Regions from separate parts of the Homo sapiens genome. Here regions 2, 3 and 4 are each linked to region 1. Evidence: fine-mapped expression QTL. A gene starts in region 1. Each other region holds a variant in brackets. All regions are shown on one strand. Distances are from middle to middle. Region 1 holds the start of LRFN2 (leucine rich repeat and fibronectin type III domain containing 2). Region 2 has its middle 18 kb from the start of LINC00951. Region 3 overlaps LRFN2 (leucine rich repeat and fibronectin type III domain containing 2). Region 4 has its middle 8.4 kb from the start of TDRG1.

The links. PIP is the estimated chance that this variant, and not a neighbour inherited with it, causes the effect.
Region 2: its variant is the best candidate, but not a certain one, in a credible set for the expression of LRFN2 in cerebellar hemisphere (GTEx, PIP 0.86).
Region 3: its variant is the best candidate, but not a certain one, in a credible set for the expression of LRFN2 in whole blood (INTERVAL, PIP 0.52).
Region 4: its variant is the best candidate, but not a certain one, in a credible set for the expression of LRFN2 in T cells (TOPMed, PIP 0.81).

What each region holds. Positions count from the first base shown.
Region 1 is chr6:40,584,716-40,590,288 of GRCh38, reverse strand. LRFN2 (leucine rich repeat and fibronectin type III domain containing 2) reads left to right here and starts at 2,925. Exons shown (of 3, transcript NM_020737.3): 1 at 2,925-3,348. RefSeq lists silencers at 2,493-2,562, 2,653-2,752.
Region 2 is chr6:40,335,695-40,341,267 of GRCh38, reverse strand. No RefSeq gene overlaps it. Among named protein-coding and RNA genes, the nearest start is that of LINC00951, 18 kb to the left of the region's middle. The variant C/T (reference allele first, on the strand shown) is at 2,751.
Region 3 is chr6:40,445,011-40,450,583 of GRCh38, reverse strand. All of the region lies in intron 1 of LRFN2 (leucine rich repeat and fibronectin type III domain containing 2), which reads left to right. Among named protein-coding and RNA genes, the nearest start is that of TDRG1, 69 kb to the right of the region's middle. The variant C/A (reference allele first, on the strand shown) is at 2,356.
Region 4 is chr6:40,383,949-40,389,521 of GRCh38, reverse strand. No RefSeq gene overlaps it. Among named protein-coding and RNA genes, the nearest start is that of TDRG1, 8.4 kb to the right of the region's middle. The variant C/T (reference allele first, on the strand shown) is at 2,262.

The DNA.
Region 1 (5,573 bases):
GAGACATGAAAGGGTGTGTGAAAATATCCCTAAGCACCTGCTGGGAGCTCTCTGGGAAATCATTTATCTGCCCTGCACTTCAGTGCCTTGGCTCTAAAACTGAAACAAAAAAAAGTATGTACAAAGAACCTTAAAAATGTTCATACCCTCCAGCCCAGTGATTCTACTTCAGGGAGTCTAGCTTAAGCACAAAAACAAGAATGTGGGGAAAGACTTAGGTACAAAGATGTTCATCACAGGGTTATTTAGCAGAATGAACACGAAGAAGAATCAAAATGCCCATTATTAAAATGGCTTTCACTCCCCAACCCCTTCTGGAATGATGGGATCACCTCTTTGGGAAGCCCTGGCTCAACTCTGAGGTAAGTAACCAGTACAGGAAGCCAGGTGCCACGTTAGTGACCCTAACTCAGTCCTTGTGGGCTTGTTCGAGGAGCCAAGAAATCCACCATCTTTCACCTTTTCATGATCCAAGTGTGGATTATCTTCTGGGGATTTTCATGGTAAACGGTGACTGTAGATTGGTGTTCTCTTGGCCTCTCAAGATGTATGTGGTCCCCATCCTGCTCCATCTGTCAAGGTTGCTTGGGGGTTCCCAGAGCTGGAAAGGCTCTTAGCAAATGCACAGTCCAAACCCTTTGAGGAAAAGGGACTTGTCACATTGCTTGTTAATACAAAGCCATGGTGAGCATCCAGGCCACCTGTGCCCCAGCACAGTACTCAGGTTATGTTGGGGCAAATGTAATTAGAAAAATAAACCAGTAATTCTCAGAATTACCAATGACCCAGGTCTTGGCTCTTCATGGAATATCCATGTTTCTGACTTGAGAAAACTTCTTGATGGAGTATTGGGTTCACTCTAGAGCAGAGATTGATCCATCCTTCCTATATCCCTCATTCACATCATTCTAATGCTTTTCTGGTTTCTAAAAGCAGCTCCATTTCTACTCTGGTGCCAGCTTGGTCCTATCCCTGCCACTCCGTTCTGGTTGTCTCATGGGTGACTGAGGGTTAGGGGAGATAACCTAGCCCACTGCCCCCAACCCTTGGGAGAATTCAAAGGCTTGAGCCCAGGCTGTGGTTCTTCCTAAGCCTTTCTTCCTGGGAGCTCCCGCCAATAGTAGGCAAGCCCTCAGGTAAGCAAAGAGTAAGGCAGTTTCCCTGCTGTTCTCCCCTCCTTCTTCCCTTCCCCTTCCTCTTCCCTACTTGCCCTCCCCAGTTTCTACTCCACACCTCCTTTTACTCACCTCTTCCTTCCTCATTACTTTCCTTCTCATGACTCTTCCCTACCTCTATCCCTCACTCCCTGCTCCTGAGTTAGATCCCTTCTCTCCAAGGCCCACCCCATATACCTTGAGTTTCATCTTGGCCATGCCCCTCCCCCACCAGGCTTTCCAGAATTCCTGCAGGGAGAGGCTTGTCTTCAAGGATATGCAGCATGCCAGTTTGGCAGTTTCCCGGGGTGCACATGTGGAGGGTGCACACATGAGGACCAGCTGCCTCGGCTTCTGCAGTTATGCATGTGTGTAGAGAGGACACAGGGTCGTATGTTACAGATGTATCCAGCCGAGCCAATCCTGGGCTGCAGAGACACATCCACATGCAACATGTGCCTCCCTGTGGGTAACCGGGACAGGTGCACGGGATGTGTTAGCCACCAGGAGAGAAGAGAAGGACTGCAACATTGACATTCTTCCTGCCCCTGGATTTACCAGCTGGAGTACCAACAGGAATCTCAAAATTTCATTTCCTTTAGAAGGAAGGAAATGCCTCTTGGGGAGTCCAGTAAGGCAGAGGACGGTCCTACCTTTCTGGTAACTAGTTGTTTATAGTGAACCGAGAGGATAACCAAAGACGAGACCTTGGCCAGACCTGGGTGTTCTGACTGTGAGCTCACAGTCTGCTTTGAGTAGGGTCTCCGCTACCTACCACATGCCTTGGACAAGTCACTTTACTCTTTTGGGCCTCAGTTTCCTTATACATCAAATGAGGGTTGCTGAGAAGATCAAACAAGTGAAGAGTTGTAAAGATGCTGTGCAAACACTTGGCGCCACTGCACCCTTCACTGATTCTTGTAATAATCATGAAAAGTCAAAGTGCGTGTGTGTGCGTGCACGGGGCGCTCGTTATTCATAGGTCCCTTACCAGGATTCGAGAATCTGAACTGGGCCCCAGGACTGGGTGGGCGCGATCGCCCCAGCCCCCACTCCCAGCCTAGGGCCGGCGCGGTCGGGTTTTCCTCCAGCAGGCGGCGGGCTGACGGCTGCAGGGCGCGCTAGGCACGTGAGGTGGCAGCGCCGTCGCCAGCTGCAGAGGTGCAGCCCTGGCCGCCCGGCTCGCCTTCCGCAGGGGCTGCCCGTGCCGCTGGACCGCGGAGACCGCCCTCCCGGTTCCGGGGCTCGCGGCCTGCCCACCTCCCTCCGCGACTGCGGCCCCAGCCCACTCCCGCCCCACCGTGCGTCCCCGCGCCACCCCTGCCAGGACCGTGAATCCCTCTGGTTTCCGCGGCGGTGTTGGTCGTCTCGGAAGCGGGTGCGCTCGGCAGCGGGCAGGGCAGCGGGCGCAGAGGCTGCCTTCGGCTCCTGCAGCTCCGCGGTTCGCCACTGGGGGCTGCCGCGCCGGAGAGCTCGGCGGGGACGGTGCGCACGGCCGCCGGGTTCCTGGGCGCCTCTGGCCGCTGGGTTTTCTCCACTGCTGGCCCTGCGCTGTCTCCGCAGCCCGCCCGACTCCCTCCCAGATTGGAGCGTGTGATCCGTGTGTGTGTGTGTGTGCGTGTGTGTGTGTGTGTGTGTGTGGAGCGGAGAGAGAAACCGGGTACGCGCGTATGCGCGCGCGCGTGGGGGGCAGTGTGCATGCGGGGAGTACGGGGGAGTGTGTTTGTGTGTGCGTGTGGGTGTGAGTGCCTGGCTCCCTCTCGCTGAGACACACATACACTCACACATACACAACCCGGCAGGCTCGTCTGAACTTGAAGACACCCCACATTCCAAGATGCCCGAGGTTCCTGGGAATGCCTGGGGTTCTTCGATCCGGAAAATCCTACCGGCATCCTCCTAGGGAGGGATTATTATTATTATTTTTCTTTAATCTGGAAGAGAAGAGAACAAGTTGTGCTTTTCCCCCCTTCTTCTTGCTAAATGCCATGGATATAACTGAATAAGCGGCTCAGGGCTTTCCCCGCGTGGACGTCCGAGGCCACCATCTGCCTGCATTCGCCGGAGCCGCCGGAGGGTTTAGCTCGAGTCTGTCTCGGGCGGGGAAGGATGCGTGGCCGAGCCGGGGAGCCCGGGCGCCCCGCGGAGCCGGCCTCGGTGCCACCCAGCCGGGGGTAGATGCTGCCTCGCCCAGGTGAGTGGTCGCCGGCGCTGCGTCTTTGCGATCCCGGGTGTCCGCGGGAGCTCGGCGCGGGGCTGAACGCACCCGAGGGAACCGGGAACTTTGCATCCCTTTCTTTTTCTCTTGAAGACTCCCCGCATCCTAGGTGCTCATGCGGACACCCCCTTCTCTTTTCGCCCATCCTTATCGCGAGAGATTTCCTTTCCTTTCTTTAGTCTTTATTTCCTACAGTGGGGGTGAAACTCTGGCGGGGAGCGGGGAGAGCCGGGTCCATGTGAGACTGGAGAGCCGGATGGAGAGACGGGGAGCCACGGGTGGATGGAACCGTTGAAAACAGCAGGAGAACTTTGCCGCCAGACCACTCTGTTGCATCTCCGCACATGCAAGGCCTGGCTAGAGCCATTGCTGGGGGCTAGGTGGGGGCGCCGGGGACTCCCTGAGCTCTGTGGACTGGGTGGGGTGGGGTAAAGCCAAGTGCGGAAGGGTTGATGCAGAGCGGATGGGAGGAAGGAAGGCATGGTTGCAGTTTGTGGGGGCAGGTAGGGCAGGTTCAGGGACCCTATGCTGGCCTCAGGCAGAAAGCAGATCAGGGGGATTGTGTGTGTGTGCAGCTTGGGGCATCAGAATGGCATGATGAAGCAATATGGAAAGTGGCATTAGCCATGCCTGGGTTCCTAGGTCTCTGTCTCCCACCCAGCCCTGCCCTGGTTCTAAGGTTGGCCTGGGCAGGGAGGAGGGAGAGCAGTAGACCGTTCCGAGGTGGACAGTGCCTTACTTTGCACAGACCTTCTGAGGGAGGTGTCCTACTCGTCTTCCCATCAGCCCGGTACAAAGGACAGAGACAGAGAGTTCTAGGGAGATAGAGCCTCTGAAAACCAGAGCAGGAGGGAGAAGAGAGCCTGAGTGGAGACCGCAGAGGGACTGAGCCAGACTGTTGCCAAATGCACCCGGCGACAGCAGACAGCTGCAGACGGACAGACACCTGCAGGGACAGGGAACATGTCAGAGCCTGCACTCTTGAGTTGGAGTTACAGGCATGGCTATAGATGATGACCCCCTCCCCTGGCCACAATGGAGTGTGTGTGTGTGTGTGTGTGTGTACGCGTGTGTGTGTGTACGCATGTGTATGTTTCAGGGAGGTGGCAGCTGTGGCCTCCATGGCCTGATTGGCCTTCTAGTACTGGGGGAGGGGGAAGCTTCAGGAATTTGACCCCCTGCTGCTGGGGAGGAGCAAAGCTAGGGAGGAAACTGCCATTCCCTGGGCTGTGAAGTTCCCAGGGGCCAGGGCTAGAGGTTCTATGTGGGCTGTTATTCTTGTGTGGGGGCCGATTTGGAACTCAAGGTGGGGAGCAAGGGAACTAGGTCTTGGGGTTGTGCCCTGGTCTGGTCGCTGCCCTCTGGCAGGAGCTTTATATAGCCACACACAGCAGAGCCCTGAGGGTAGTGTCATTTCCTTGTGGGGTACATCAGAGGCTGAAGGGGGTCAGAGTCCTGTAGGGAGGATTCAGAAGCTCCAAAAGGCCTGCACTTGGAGCCGTCATCCTCCGCCGACCATGCCAGCTGCCTGGGCCCTTCTGCTGATGCTGGAATGTCATCTTTCCCTTCTGACTCTGGCTGGGAGTGCAGAGTTGCATCTCCCTCTGGCCTCCTCACATGCTTCTGCTCAGGCCCCCTGCCCAGCCCTCAATTTAGAGTTTCTGGTCTAATTCCTGACCAGGAATGTAATTATTTATCTTCCTGCCCTCATCCTGGGGATGCAAACAGCAAACTTGGCATTTCTGTTTCAGCCTCTGGAAGGTTGGCTCCCAGTTCCATCTCCTGTCTAGAAGAACTGGGTGCCTGCCTGCTGTGGGCTGGAGGCTGGGGTTCAGGGCTCCTTCTTCTGTGAAGTGCCAGTTCTTTGCTCAGGCCCAGAAACGTGAGAAGCTGGGGAGTCTGGCCTGAGAGAGGGTGAGCTGGGAGCTTCCAGGAGGTGAGGCTGAGGAGGAGAAGCAAGATAGATGGGAAGAAAATGCAGTCAGAGTGGGTGGGGCCACCGGGGAAACCAGGCAGCCTTCTGGCCAACTGAGTCCTTCTTTGACTGAAGGAGGAATTGCTCTTCTTATCTTTGCTTCAGCTCCAAAGGAAAAAAAAAAAACAGGGATTCTGGCCTCCAAGTGCCAGTTTGCCAAGCCTCTTCAGCCTGTGGGGTTGAGCAGGTTCTGCTCTCCTTTTTTGCAGGGTGGATGTATAGAGGC
Region 2 (5,573 bases), 250 kb after region 1:
CTTGCAGATACCCAGAGTCACTATGCAGCATTGCGGTGGTGTGTTATCTTTGCATGGTATCGTCTCTTTCACTAATTTATCAAACATAGATTTATGGAATGTTGGCTCCTTGCCAGGATGCAGGCTGGATAGAGACCCTGCCCCTGACCCATTCCCTGGCTGGCAAGGGAAGCAAGACAAGCAAGCAGGAAACTTTCTGCCCAAAAAGGGGGATGCTGGAGTATCCGCCCCACCACCACCACCAGCACCAAAAACCACCACTACCATTTCCTGAGGGCTCGCCATGCACCAGGCTGTCAGGAGGCTTTGCAGGTATTAACCCTCTTGACAGCCCGACCAAGTAGGCACTGTCACAGTTCTGCATTGTAGACAGGCACTAAATGAGTCTCAGAGAGGTTAAATAATATGTCCAGTGCTAGACAGTTTCTACCTAATAGGGAGGAATGAAGTGCTACAGGAACATGAGAGACGGAGCGGCTGCCTAGGGAATCCCATTCACTGCTTACAGCAAGCCCACAGATGACAAGCATTACGTGGGACCAGGAGCAGGTAAGTGACTTGCCCAAGGCCCTTCAGCTAGTAGATAGTGGAGGTGGTTTCAACCCAGGTTCTCTATTTCTGAGACTTTGTTCATCCCTTTACCTGTGCTGCCCTGGAAAGACTCACCAGCTGTTGGAGAGCAGGTGAAGTGAAAGGCTTTAAAAAGGAGGCTCCTTAGAAATTCTCAGCTCTGCTCTCATAACTTGGTTTATGAAGCACTGGGCCTGCTGACTCCAGTGGGTTGAAGAGGGCTTTGCTGGCAGCCTCTGTCCCGGCTTGAGATGTGTGGCCCGTCTCTGACTGACACCGCCTAAGCCTCTCAATCTCTAAGAGTGATTCCATCTCATGGATGAGAGCCTCCGACATCTGTACCTGTCAGGCGACAAATCCAGACACACACTCCCTGTCTGGTTAGATATGCATCAGGCCCGATTAGGCCCGTGAACCTGCCTGCTGTGTGTGGATCCCTTTAGCCAAAAGCCACAAAGATAATTGAATTCGGGTGCAATTCTCACCAGGAGGTTGCCTGGGCATGTGTGGGGAAGGGTCTAGAGTAGGGGGCTGTGGGTGGTGGTGCGGGGGAGGTGGGCCCCACCTCTGTGATGCTGGGGTGGAACAAATGACTGACAGCCCAGCCCAGGACAAGGCAAGGGGGTCGCCTTACCCTCAAACCCCCATTCCCCAACAGGTGCTTGAAATTTCAGCACGAGTATTTTTCACTTCTAGGAAGTGTTTTTGTCTTTATGGCCTTGGCAGGATGGGAACACAGGCAGCGGGTGAACAGAAATACCCTCGGTGAGCAGGTGGGTCGGAACATCTGCACAGCCAGGCTGCCCTGCCTCACGCCTTCAGATCCAATTTCATTTCCTCACTTTGCATCCCTTTTTAATCAGCAGACACACCTGGAAAGGGCGTTCCTGCTGTCCCCCCAGCTCCGTTAGCCCTCCTCCAGCAGTTCTGCACAGTTCCCTGGCAAAAGGTGGGCTGAAGGTGGGAAAATGCCAAGGGTATATCTCACCTGCTTACCAACGGGGCTCTGCTGTGCCTGGATTCAGCCACCTCATCCTCAATGCCTGCCTTCACCCTGCCTGGATACAGAAGCCCCCAGCTCCCCACAAGGGAGACAACATGCCCTCCATGGCAGCTGCCAGTGATATAGACACCTCCACATCCACCACCATTAATGCAGTCCTACAGGCAGGTGCCCCTCACTGCCTAGAGAACACCAGCAAGCTTTCTGGCCACTCTGAGTCCTGCCTCTTGGAGTGAGAAACCAGAGACTCATCTTTCCCAGTGTCTCTTGTAGCTGTGACGAGGGCATGGACATGGAGTCTGCCAATGGGACCCACCAGTAGAGGCTTCAGCCTGAGACAGGCAAGCAGTGGCCAATGCCATGCAGTATCTATTTCCTGGTAAAGGCAGGGGCAGAGGCATCTGGCTTTGGAGGCAGCAGAGATGGAGGCACCAGGATCCAGGACCCTGTATCAGCAGTGAGAGCTCTGAGAATTGTGCCAGACCATGGCAGCCCTGAGGTCTGTAGGAGAAGAGGCTGGGGTTGGTTTGGGCGTTATTCCTGACTGGGCAGCTGCTCCCAAAGTCTGAGTCTGTCTCCCACAAAGATTTAATATCTTCATTTTCTGCTTAAGCTAGCCAGAGTAGATTTGCAAACACCCTGACTGGTATAGCACTCCCTGAAGTAAGCATGGGGTCTTTGTCAATAGCTAAGGGGTGTTTGTGAGTTAGTGTGGTTGTATATGTGTGCACACACAGAGGTAAATGAGAGAAGACTCCTGCCCTCAGGGAGCTTACAAGCTTCTAAAAGGTAACGGTAATAAAGATGATGAAAATAATAATAACAATAACAATCATGAAACTGTATCTCAATTAGAAGGAAGAGTGGGCAGAGCAGGAGGTGGTAGATGGACATGACTTATCATCAACAAGAAAGAACTCAGCAGAACCCTGCCCCAGGCCACCTGCAGGGTTCCAGTAGGGAAATGAAAAGGAGGAGAAGTGAGCATGGCAGAGATGCAGCCACGAGAGGGACAGAAGACAGTCAGGTCTGCCGCCTGCTCTTCCCGTCCTGAGTCAGGTCTGGACCCTGCAGTGGACACAGCCACTCCTGCTGCCTGCAGAGCAACCCTCCCAGGTTCTCCTGCACCTGGCCAGCCTCCTGAGCAGGGAACAGAGCAGATGGCCAGCAGACTGCC[C/T]CAACACAGGAATCTAGGACTCAGGGCCCAGGACACTCAGGAAACTCGGTTGCCATTCTCCGCGATGCTCAGACAGCCACTGTCAGTCAGTCTCCCCAAGGGCCTCCCACCTAAGCACCATGCCTGTCCTCATGTGCTCTGCCAGCTCTGAAACACTCTGCCTCTCTCTACCCTTGCCACCCCCACCTCCACCGTTCCCCTCTTCTGTCTCTCTCTTCCTTCACCTCCCTCTCTCCCACGTCCCCTGCATTTATCCCATGTCAGCATCCTGGACCCTTCTTCCCCTAGTTTCTTCCCTCTCTGCCGGTGTCTTTCCCCTTCTCAGCCACTTCTCTGCCACCTACTGTCCTCTCCATTTCCACACCAAAACCTCATCTCCAGCCCTCCCCAGCAATGCCTTTCCCAGAGCTCCTGCCTGGTCACACCTCTCGCCTCCCTCTCTTGTCCTCCAGCTCCATGGACTCTAGAACTGCCAGCAGCTTGTCTCTGGCACCCAGTTCCCCTTGCAGTCACCATCCACAGTCCTCTGAGGATATATCCAATCTCTTCCATGTCCTCAAGCACAGCACAGGATGGACACTAAGAGGGAAGGAAGAGATGGGGACAGTGGAGACTGGGATAATCAATTTCGGGCCTCCAAGAGCCAGAACACAGGGCTCTTCTCCTCTAAGACAGGGTGCAGGGGACTCCAGCAGAGCCAGGAGAGTGCTAAGATGGCCCATGGGAAAAGCCTCTGGCTTTGTGTGCAGGGGTTGTGGTGGGGGGATGGGGGTGTCTGCCTCTCTTTTCATTTCTCTGTTCTCTGCCTCCATCTCTGCGTTTCTCTAATTCCACTTCTTGGTCTCTTTGTGTCTCCAGCTCTGTGATGGTAAGGTGGGAGTTGGAATAACTTCTCAGCATTAACCATGGCTTCTGTGTGGGGGACGTTACCTTAATTGAGTCTCAGCTTGTTCACAGCCACTCGGCTGCCATAAATAATGGATGTCCAAATGGACTGTAAACTGGAAAGGCTGAGCCATGTCACACAATGCAATGGCCCCTGGCTTCAGCCTTCTGCAGGGCGCCTAGCCTCTCTCTTAATAATGCATGGTCCACACCCACCACAGCCAGACACCCAGCGATTCCCAATGAGAAGCTTGTTATGCTGTGCTGCAGGAAGGAATCAGGAACTTGCCCACTCTCTGATCCTCTCAGGGGAGGGCAGCAAGAGCCACACAGAGGTGTCAAGGCCTCAAGTCTTGTGAGAAAATGAACCTACCTACGATGTCACTGCACATGAAAATGACCTGCATCCTCCCTCCTGTGGGTACCGGCAGATGGTCTTTTGGTTTCTGGCTTTAATCCTGGGGTACAAATCCTGTAGCCGTCTGCTCACCAGATCCCTGAAGACTGCACCGTTCTCTGTGTATAGAGCAAGCTGCTGGTTAGAGGATCTGAAGCTACTTAATGCACTTGCGCTGTTTGCAGAACCTCCCTCTGTTTGTAGAGCCTGCCAATGCAGAAGGAGGGCTGTTGGCAGACTCTGAAGCTGTTGGCTACTTCTGCCCCCAAGACTGACTCACAGTCAATGCCCTTGCTCATACATGTAGGGCTTCCCTTGGTCCCATATCTTAGCTCCCACTTGGTGCCCCCATCCTTCTGGTTGCTCTGCCTGCCCCAGGGTCTTCAGCTCTGACTCACTGACCTCCCATGCCAGAGGTATTCCCCACCCACTATCCCCCAAGTCACATCTGTGTTCACAAATGCCTTCTCATCATGGATCCTGAAAATTAGCCTAGGACCTAGAGGTGTCTAGGGTGGGGGTGTAAGGATGCTCCTGGAAGGACCCCGTGCTGCTCAACAATGCCTACTGGTTGATGTCCTCAGTGCCAGGGGTTTGCTTTTAAAGCTCCAAACTCAAGACATTAATAAGATTCAGTGTCCATTTTATTCTAACACATTCTTGTTGGTTTTGTTCTGAATGCCTGTGGGGTGGATGATTGGAAGCAAGCTGTGGTTGTTTAGTGGTTTTTAACTTTAATAGCTTTGGTAATGTAGCTAAAGTCTGTTCAACTTCTGTTGCTACTGTTACCCAAATGCTTCAGGCAAATCATGACCAGGTCATCTGATTATTTCTCTAACAGGCCAGGCTTAAAGCTTGCAGATAGTTGGAATATTGTAGGGCCTTTGTTGTGGGGGGTGGGGGGTTGGCAGGGGATGGCCCCTCTGTGGCTAGGGCCAAGACTGATTACAAAGCTGTGCCTCCCCATAGGATGCCCTTCCTTAGTTTCTTTTTAGAAAACTCATTTTGTCATAGACAGGCTTGAAATGGCCAATGACGCTATTAATTACAACTGGCAGATAACAAGGCATTTTCACAAACATTGTATGGGATGTTTGTGAAACAGGCAAGAAAAAACAACTTCAGAAATGTTCAGTGACTTCTCCACAGGGAAGACTTCAAGTCTACTGACTCCAAATTCAATGTTCCCTGTGTAGTTCTATACTAGGAGTTCTTAACCAATCTTCTAAAGAAAACTTCAGCTTCTGCAGAAGTTTCTGTTAACTATTAGAATTTATTTGCAAAATACCGCATTGCAGATGTGTGTACACTTCCTCCCGGGGAGAGGGTCTACTGCTTTCCCAAGATGCTCAAAAGGGGCGCAGCGGAGTCAGAGACCACCGTGCACGTGCGGGGGAGTCAGAGACCACTGTGCACATGCAGAGGAGTCAGAGACCACCGTGAGCATGAGGGGAGTCAGAGACCACCGTGCGTGTGCAGGGGAGTCAGAGACCACTGCGCATGGTATGCCTTGTCCCCCACACCCAGATCCATGAAACCAG
Region 3 (5,573 bases), 140 kb after region 1:
CACTGCACACTTTGCCCTCCTTGCAGGCTTCCAGCACGGTTGCATCCCCCATGCACACCCACCCAGGGACAAGGAAAAGGCTGCCCCTGTGAGGAGGTGCTCCTCCCTCCCTCTCTCCCTTGCAATGTGCTCAGGGGCCTTTGACATTTAACTTCAGTGCAATTTGTTTGTTTTCACCCGAGTTGAAAATACCAACAAATGTCACCTGCCTTCACTCCTCTCTCCCAACATGTGACTCTGATGGGCCAGGAGCTGGCAATACTAATGAGAATCTTAAGTCTCCAAGAATTGGCAGGGAGATGCAGAGCTCTGGGTAGGTAAGATGTGGATATGCAGGTGGTTCTAGCATGAGAAAGGTGAGCTCCGAGGTAGGGAAGGTGAGGCAAGGATGCAAAGTCAGTGGTGGGGTAAGGAGGCCGGTGAGGACAGTTCTCTCAGCACCATCGAAAGGAAAGATGACTTCGTAGTCCTGTGTCTCTCTCTGTTTCAAAAGACTTTTCTACATTGTCCTGAAGTTTTTCTAGTTCCCTGCGTCTGTGTCAGCTCCTTCTGCCTACTGTATCCATTTCTCAGGGAGGGGGCTGGGATGCCACCTTATATTTTTTGGAAATTCATATCAGTTAGAAAAAGATTTCATTGTGAGTGATAAAAAATAAAACCAAAACAATGCAAAGTAGCCCAAATGAGATAGAATTTTTTTTTCTCTATCATGTAACAAATACAGAGATAAGGTCTATATTTGGGTGAACAGCATTGTACCAATGTCAATTGTGCTATGGCTAGGTAATATGTTACCAATGGGGAAAATGGGGTGAGGAGTATATAGAAACTCTTTATACTATTTTTTACAAGTTCGTATGAGTCTTAAACTATTTAAAACAGAAAGTTGTAATGAAAAAAGAGACAAACTGTGGGAAGTTCAGGGCTATATGGTGGTGCCATGATCACCAGATACCCAGGTTCCTTCCATCTTATTGTTTTGCATTCTCAAACCTGGCCACCACCTTATGGTCCAAGATGACTGCTCAAGCTCTACCCACCCCATCTACATTCCAATCAGTAGAAAGCAGGAAGGAGCAAAGACAGGCATGACCTTTCTCTAAGGATACTTGTGGGTCATCACATAGTAGACATTTACTCACAACCCTTTGGTTAGAACTAAGTCACATGGCTGCAACTGAGTACAAGGGAGGCTGGGAAATACAGTCTTTATTTGGGGGTGGCCTTTTGGCCAAATAACACTTGGGACTTCTTTTCTCTTTTTAAAATTTGTATATTTTGTTGTAAATTTACAATTTGTATATATTTATGGGGTACAAAGGAATGTTTTGATTTATAAACACATTGTGGAATAATTATGTCAAGTTAGTTAACATATCCATCACCTCAAATACTTAACACTTTTGTAGTGAGAACATTTGAAGTGCGCTCTCTTAGCAATTTTGAAATGTACAATACTCTATTATTAACTATATTCACCATGTGCAATTGGGGATTCTTACTAGGGAAGAACAGGAAAATGTGTATTAGGGAACAACCAAGAGGCTGTGATAGTCACCCCACAGAGGAAGAGCACAATGCTGCGTGTCAAGGAAGAGTTGGTTGCTTTGGTTATACTTCTGAGCCCCTAGCCTGACTTCCCTGTTACCCCTCCCAACTAAAGAAGGAAACTGTGCTTGCTTCCTTCCTTTGGCAAAACAGGACCAGGACCCCTTTCCCAGCCCACAGAGCCTCCAGCCAGCCTCCTCCATTCAATCTCCAGCTCTGCAAGGGAATTGAAGCCGGAAGTGTTCAGCTTCCTTGGTTCTGCCTTCTGCCAAAGGACAGGAAACATGTATATGGTGTGAATTAAGAGAAACGATTAGGATCTCCCAGCCTTGTAATCTCTCCAGACACCAACACCACAAGTCAGGAGATAGTGCCTAAAAATTCATTAGCGATTCGGTCCTTTGGTAAAGGCAGTGTAGAATTCTCATTTAAGATAATCAGCCATTAATATTTTAACCATCTATGTATTTGATCTTTTTGAGTATTGCAGCAAGATAAGAATCCAAAAGATTAGGGCTGACGGAGGATGCAAAGATTTCATTTTTTTCATTTTTATCTTTTATTGTAAATTTACAATTTGTATATATTCATGGGGTATCATTATTACTTTGGCAGAAGTGAGTCTCTTTTGGCCTCAGGCTCGCCCTGATCTCCTGATTCTCAAAATAATTATTTTTTCACCCTATCTGAGGCTGCCAGAGGTGGGGTCTGGAGGGGAGCACGTGCTTGATGGGTGCACCAAACCCAGGGGGTTGCAGGAGAAGCACAAAACTCACTACCTCAGCCAAGCACTTGGCTCTGCTTCTC[C/A]TCTTCATAGTGGGAAGGTATGAGCTGCTTCCCCAACTCAGCAAGCCCGCAAATCCCAAGGCCAAGTGATGGGTGTGAGTGGAGGAAGGATTCACGGGTGTGAAGGACACTGCTCAGGAGGACCCACGCTCCCGGTCTCTCACAGGCTATTGCCCTAACACTAGGAGCACTCGTGGCTTTTGACACCTAAAGGCTGGGCCTCCCTCCCTGAAACTCCAGGGCATGCTCCCCATTCTTTCTTGGTTAATTATCAGTTAATATCAGTGCTTGATTATAAAGTGATTACTGTTTGGATAGAGCCTTGTGTACATTTTGTTGGTTGATTCTAATGGAGGAGAACAGGGGTCAGTCCTAGGGTCCCTAGACTCTGGCAATATCTACAGAGCTCTTTGAGAGCCCAGATGGATGAGGGGCCACCTACTAGGTGGACCACCTACTAGGTAGGCCACCCAGAGTACATCATCTAAACACCTTGATGGGCCTCACCTTATCTGTAAATAGAAATAACTACCACACCCACTTCATAGGGTGGGTGGGAAGATGAAATGTGTTAAGGCAGAAAATGCTTACCATAGAATCAGCACTCAAGTGTTCACCATTTCATGATGATGATGATGATGATATCATCTACGTTTGAAGTAATGAAGAGTGAGAATTATTTGAGCAAAGTCAAGTCTTTCACCTTCTGAGAAGTTCACAGAAAAATAAAGGTTTGGGAACAAACTTGTTAAAGATTCTAAACTCAGGTCCCCATTTAGTTCAGGTGGAAGAAGACATCATGGGATGGTGACAGCTCTGCCTCTAGTGATGTTAAAGGTAGGCAAATTTGGGGAAAGAAGAGAGCCTGAGAGTGAGGCAGAATTCTGAGTTTGAGGTTAATGTCGTAACATTACCACAACTTTAAAGGTAATTAATGTCCTCATTTACACAAGAAAACTGAGGCATACGGTGGGGACATGCTTTGCTTGAGGTTAATGAGAAGGTTGGTAGGGTCTTTTGCTTTGATAGAAAAAGTAGAAATACTTTTCTTGGAAAACTAATAGGATAATGAGGGAATGTGTGGCCTTGTTATAAGGAAGCCCCAGTCTGAGCGGAGACACAGCCCTGACTCAGGGACCCCAGTCTGGGGGAGACACAGCCCTGACTCAGGGAGCCCAGTCTGAGGGAGGCACAGCCCCATCCTCAGGGAGCCCCAGTCTGAGGGGAGACGCAGCCCCAATCCCAGGGAGCTCCAGTCTGAGGGGAGATGCAGCCTCGTCCTCAGGGAACCCCAGTCTGAGGGAGACACAGCTCCATCCTCAGGAAGCCCCAGTCTGAGGGAGACACAGCTCCATCCTCAGGAAGCCCCAGTCTGAGGGAGACACAGCCCCATCATCAGGGAGCCCCAGTCTGAGGGGGGACACAGCTCCCACTTCTCTGGGAGGTCTAGTTTGAAGGAGAAACAAGGCAGATTTTGCTTTTATCATTTATTCCCTGCCTGCACCTCTCTGTCTCCTACTGGAAGAAGATAATTGTGTGTCTTCCTCTGTGCAGACTGTCTTGCCTTTAATAGATTGCAGCCTCCCAGAGGACAGAAAGAAAATTATTTACTCAGATTCTGTATGGAGCTCAGCACAGCAGGTGTTCAATGTATACATATCGCCGCTAATGATGTAGCACAATAAATACACTTAGCCCTAGTGACAGAAGCCTGATGAACACAGCACACAGCAGCTGTATCAGCAAGGCCATTGGCAGTGAGGAAGCTGCTGGGGAGAGAATTACTAAAAAGCCTGTAATGATCAGACACGAGGAATGTAGGGGCAGCAGGGAAGGGGGAGATCCTTTCTCCTCTGTAGCCCCCATAACAGGTGAGCAGGGCTGCATTATGGCCTTCGTGGGCCCTAGCCACTTTTGCCTTGGAATGCTTCTTCCTTCATTAAAATTAAAAATTAAAAAATCTCTCCACTGCTGGTTGCCTTTCTCCTGGGCAAGGAGGCCTCCTACACCCAGACTACACCCCAGCCTTGGATTCAGGAGTGGCCAGGCTGGAGGAAGATTTGATTATTGCTCCCTAGTCATGGCTCTATTCCTGCCCATCTAACCGACAACAGCAGAATTTCCTAAACTAATGGTGAGGTCCCCAGGAGGTGCTGAGTTCTATGAACATGTTTTACATTTCAGCTTTTTATTTTGGTGGCAATCTAAAATTCATTCTTTACCAAAGCTTCTCCTTGAGAACAGCCAGTCACAACTTAAAGAGAGTGCACTTAATAAGAACTGTAATGGGAAACACTGTTTTGAGATTTTATTTTGTGCCTGGCCCTGGTTAAGTGTTTTACAGGATTGACTCAATTAATCCTCACAACTTTATAAGATTATTCGATTTTACAGGTGAGGAAACTGAGGTATTGAGAGGTCAAGCAACTTGCCCAAGACCACAGGGCCAGAAAGAGGCAGGCCAGGATTGAAGCTGAGGGGATTCCTTAGTCCTACAAAGTGGCTGGACCCCAGAGGCCATGTGCCTACCACTAGCCACCTTGCCAGTAAGTCAATTTCTTAAGCCAGCACTTCTCAAGCCGGGGCCTCTTGAGGATGCTTCCTTTAAAAGGTTTCTGTAATTGTCCACCTTTGGTAGATCCACCTCTCTCCAATCACAATACCTTGAATCTTTGTTCTTCCTTCTAGAATGTCCTCATTAAGACAACTGGCCCAAGCTGCTGAAATCCTACCACCTATCATTCAAGGCCACAATCAGCACCACCTCCTCCAAGAAAAGTTCCCTTGCCCTAGTTGGTGGGGGAGTCTTCCATAGAATTCCCATAACTCTTTACCACTTCCTTTTCTCTCCGCCTTGAGAATGATGTCATCTGGGAGGGGGTAGGACATACCTGGACTGCGATTCCAACTCTGCCTTTTGTCATAAGTTATTGAACAAGGTGTGGAAGCTTCCTCGGCTTCAATTTCTCCACTTATAAAATCGGCAGATGGTACTGCATTATTGAATGGCTTAAATGAAATAACGTGTAAAACACCAGACACCCTGTAGATACTTCCCTCTTCCCTTGGATTGCACCTATCCAGGTATATGTTTGTAAGCTCCTCCTGAGAAGAGGGAAGATGTCCCATCCAGCTCTTTCACCACCCCATGTCTGCATGCCCACGTGGGGCTGGTGCTTGACAGAAGCCTAACTGAATGGTTGAATCATTGCTGCTGAGTAAAGCAGGTCCCTGGGGGG
Region 4 (5,573 bases), 200 kb after region 1:
GTTTTGGAAAGCAGCATCCCTGTGGTCAGAATATAAATGCCAATCTTCTCCTTTGCTAGAAAAAAAATGTACAGTAAAATGTACAGTTTTAAAAACAACCACTAACCACACTCCTTGGGCGGGGGAAAAAAAAAACATTCTTATGTCTGTGAATGTCTGCTGTTCATTTCTCTGGAAACTCTGGGGTTTTCTAAAGATGGCTTTGAAGTGGCATTTTCTCTTGCACCTGTGTTTGTTACTGCCTGGTGGGAGCCTGCTTCTTGCCAAGTTCATGTATAAGGTGGGGGAATCTTCTGAAATAATAGAAAATGGGATCATCTTCCCAGAGTAAAGAAAGGTAGAGAAATCTGAAGAGAAGCTTCAGGCTAAGAAAAGAACAGTCCATCCCCAGCTGTCCTGACTGTCCTACCTGACATCTCCATTCTCTGATATACCAGCCCTACCTACTTTTTCCTGGACTGTGGTCACCACAACACCTGACTACTAGGGGCATGTAGGTATCTTCTACCCGTTTTGGTTGAGCCCTGGATGGTATTTTTTTCAAAAGGGTCTTTTACTGGGAAACCATGGGAGAACAAACCAAAACCCAAACTCAAGGTATAGAAACAAACATGCTTCTGGAACACAGCTTCCCAACCTTGTCTTTTCTAGTATCTAGATCAGCACTGTCCAATAGAATAAAATGTAAGCCGCATTGTAATTTTAAATTTTCCAGTAGCCATGTTGAATCAAATATAAAGAAACAGGTGGAATTAATTTTAATCTTATATTTTAACTCAATATATCCAAAATATTATTGTAACATGTAATCACTCAAATTATTAGTAAGTTATTTTATGGTATTTTTTGGTACAAAGTTTTAGAAATCTGATTTGTATTTTACATGTATGGCATATATCAATTCAGATGAGCCCTCTTTAAAGTATTTTACATGTATGACACATATCAATTCAGACTAGCCCTCTTTAAAGTACTTGAGAGCCATATGTGGCTAGTACTGGCCACTGTACCAGACAGTGCGACTCTAGACATACAATTGACTTGAAAGCACAGCTTTTAGAAGAGGAAGGAAACTGACAATTATTGAGTACCTACAGCTTCCAGTTACTGTGCTTGTTGCTTCAAATATGTTTCTCACTGAATCATCACTAAAACCTTTTTAGGTAGATAGTATTATGCCCATATTATAAATGAAGGGACTGAAGCTCAGAGGGGTTAAGTAACTTGCCCAAGGTCACACAGTTAAGTCTGGCTGCAAAGCCTTAGTTCTTCCCATGACATCACACTGCCTTCCCATCCTTTCTTCTTCCCGTCAACCTGTTATAGATTGTATTTTATACTGACTGAATGATTCACATTTGTAGCCTAATCAGGAAACCCTTGACTAGCCTAAGATCTGCGAGAAACCTCAGAGTGTTAATTCCAGGCAAGAGCACCTTGGTGAAGCAGTTCCTTCTGACCGTACACCGGCCTTTCTGGCCCTCCTTGCCTTGAAACACGTTCCCTCCCCTGGCCAGGAAAATTCCTCAGGATTCAGACTGCACTGCCCAGCCCACCCTGTGGTCACCCCTTCTTCCCTCTTGGTGACCTCTAGGAGGTTGCTTGTTGAATGAGCCTTCCATCTCCAGTCTTGTCTGGGCTGCTCTGCCCCAGGAGCCTATAACTTCTTCCCCCTAAGATAAAAAGCCTGACAACAGCTTGCTTCAGAGACAAAACCCATCTTCTCGCCTCTTTCTATTTTAATACCCCTGTCCCTATCAGGTAAGATACCTACCCAGATCCTCTTTCCTGATATACAGAAGCCTCCAGCTCTTCAATCTTTTGCAGAGGTGAGATAGCTGATACAATATTTGCCTAGTTGATTATTAAGCTTTCTGGAAAAACAGTTTGACCCCTTTCCCCACATTCTCGATAATGACATATCCCTCAGGTTTCCCTCAAGAGAATTTTCTATTTTTTCACCATTACAGTGTTGAAATTCGAAAAGACCTCAGGAACACTTTTTTGTTAAGGGATATAATTGTCAGCCAGGCTAGGCAACAGTCACTGTCTCAGGATTCCCCCTTCCCAAATGCAAAGTAACTTTTCTTTAAAAGTCTGTGAGTATTGATTTTTCATAAGTACAGCCTGAGTACTTCTGTATCTTCTGTTCTCAGTGTGCCTGCAGTGAAGGTCTCAGGGCTTCAGCAAGCTGGGTGGGGCTTTCTCTGTTCTTACAACCAGTGGGATTTCTGCAAACTGCTGCCAGAAAAATAGACACA[C/T]TTATTCAAAAGAAGAGACTATTGGCAGGCAGCACTCAAAACCTGCATACACCGTTTTAAAGATCCCACCTAGATTATCAAACCTAGCCTTTCCATGTGATGCAGTTGGCAGCAAGAAGAATTTGTTGTGACAAGGAGGCTTCTCACAGGTAAATACCTGAGGTTTCTACCTTTGCATAATAGAATCAGGCCCATCCAGGTTACTGCCCCAATATCTAAAAGGAACCCTGTCACTTTCACAGTTTAAAAATATCTATTTGTGCTTTCAGCCCTTAAACCAAAGGTTGTAGCTTCCATCATCTCAATTAAGGTTCTGTACCTCACAGTCAGTCAATGTTTACAAGGCTCGTGGTTTCCCTTCCCTGAAGCTTCTATCAGAGAGAAATTGGCATGTTTTCCCCAGACCAAAGAGAGAAGCTAGCTTTTACCTCTAAGGCTATCCTGTGACCCCTATCATAGCTATTTAGGAACTTCTGACAGGTTCAGTGATCTTTCTCCATGTTCTCATTTTGTATAATGTGTGACATCTTTCTTTTGCTCACCTATTCTGAGGAAGTAGGCCCAGATTACAGGCTCTTCCCTGGTTATTTTCCTATTATTGTTGGGATAATTGATCTTCTGGTCCCTTTAGCCATCAGCTGAATATGCTCCTGGAGCCAGAATTCTCCTCCACTATCTCATGCCGGAGTCTGTCTGGGATTGGAGCAAGGAAGATCTCATGGTCTAGTCCTTTCCAAGATGTCAACAGTCACATGCTCGGTTTCCTACTGATGAGAGAATGGAGCTGGAATTTCACCCATCTCCATGGGATCCCCAAACCCATCTGGTCCACAGCCAGTCAGCCCACTGACCAACCTCCCACAGCCCCAGCCCATCCGTCCAGGCTGTCCATCTGGTTAGTTGGTGATGAGCACACCCCCTCTTCTCCTGCACCTCCTCTGTAACATGTGTTCAGTGGTGCTCCCTGGCATACCCCACAGCAGCACTAACATTTATATACTTTGCAAGGATGAGTTTTCTTTCCCTTGAATCTCCTAGGCTACATCCAAGATATCCCATTTTCCAAACCATGGAGACCTGTGTTAGCTGACCTATCTGACATTGTTTCCACTTTGTTGTGAAGTAAAAACCTCAGTGCACTACACCTGTCCCCTCTGTCATGGACTTGGCATGTCCTGGCAACTAGCAGGTAACTTGCTCACCATTTGAGGAGTACTGCTGCCAAGAAGAAGGGATTTAAGCCCTCAGTTGCAGCTATTAATCCTGAAGGCTTTCATCTTGGGTTTCCTGTTATGCTCTTCCCACCCATTCCTGTGGGGATCTCTTGGAAGACATGGTCCTTCCTGTCTACCAAAGATGGGGTGATTGCCTTACCTACCCAGACTAATTATGGAAAAGTTCTTATACTTTCATTAGGAGAACATTAGGTTGGCATTTTTCAGGTGAATATTGAACTGCAAAAGTAAGTTGATAATCATACCTGACATTTATTGAGAGTTTCCTATGTGCCGTGTACTGGTCTAAGAGCTATATATAGATTATCTCAATTTATCATCAAAACAACACAATGAAATAAGTATTATTATTAATATCTCTATTGGGGAAGCTCAGGTAGAGAAGAGTTAAATAACTTGCCCAAGGTCACACAGCTATTGAGGCACAAAGTTGGGTAAACACTCAAGAGATGGATTTGCTCTGAAGTTTCTTACAGAGCTGCAGAGGATGTAAAAATGCAGAGCTGTCTGGGTTTCATGTCGAAGGCCTGAATCCTGGCATATGTGCCTTGACTTTCAGAAGACTGAGTCCAGCAGAAAAAGTGGGAGAGATGGTGAAATCTGTTTGTGCTCATTCAGCATGCTCTTGCTGACCTGCTGTGTGCCTAGCACTGTGCATGGTATTGAGAGAGATAAAAGTCAAAGTGAAAGACACTGTGCATGGCTTTGAGGGCCTTACACATTACCCTGAAGGACAGGGCCATAAGCTGATGCTTTAGATCTCTGGTTATCAAAGATTGGTCTGTTTTCACTAATTTCAAGATAACTTATAGATCTGGCAAAACTACTATCCAAGAAAAGATGGACAGATGGATTGGCCAAAGGCCATACAACATAAGATGGCACCTGTGCTTGGAAGAATTCACCAGATTTTAAGTTTCAAAATCTTGAGTCACTTTACAGAAGAGGAAATTAAGACCTGGTATGGAAAAGTGACTGGCTTTGGGTCTAACAGGGGCACATTAAGGACTGGGATCCTGTGCCTGGACAAGCAGGGGTTGAGGGAGGCATCTCTAGCTGTCCCAGGAGCTTGAGAGGAGGTGTGGTGGAGGGAACAAAGCAGGTCTGGAAGAAGGGTAGTTGCAGAGAACTGAGTAAACCAAGGCAGGTTCAGTTCCTCCTGAGAGAAAGAGGCTGTTTAGTTTGGGGGTTCTGGGTTGAGAGGCTGTTTCTTGGCCACAGTTTCTTTTTTGGTAAGATATCAATGGTAAGTATCGACTTCAGTAAGTATGCTTCTGTAGTACTATGTAGTTACACAGATCACATATTGGATCGGAAAAGGCAGCGTAATAACAGTCATTATTATTAATGATATGCATCATTTAAAGTAACATAAATTATAGCATATTAATGATAATATTACATATGTTAAGTTCATAGACTCTCAAAGCTGGCAAAAGCTATCAGAGGTCATCTACTCCAGCCTCCCTCAATGGCTATCAGGATCCCCTGTTCAATATCTATACAAGCTCTCCTTAATCTTATTAAAAGGAAAATCATGCATGATGAATTTCAGGATTTACCCAAGGCAGGAAGTAGCTCTCTGTGCTCTAATCAGACCATGGCTCCATATTCCCGGTGGGCCCTTGTGAATCCATCATTCTTGACTTCATGGGAAATCCAGAGCCCAGACATCAAGCAGCTCCCAAAGACTGCTATGGTCAAAATAGTGTTAAAAAACTAGGTACAGAGCCAGGGTTCCAGCTGGAAAAATCTCAAGAGGTTCGATATTCCCTGCCAAATCAGCACTGGTCTCTATGATTTTGAGAGAAGAAAGGAGGCAGGGAAGTGGCAGAGAGCACATGGTAACCTCTGTACTCCCTGATGCCCTGAATGTTCTGACATACACAACAGCCCCAATAGTAGATGGAAGCACCTGGAAAACTGTAGACTTCACTGCTGGGCTGAGGATGGCCATCCTGCCCCTCACTCATTGGTTCCCTAATCCTTCTCACCTTTCATCTTTGTTCCAGGATTTTCCCAACAGCCAAAATCTAACATCCAGTATTCTGGAATGACACAAATGCTGCCACCAAAA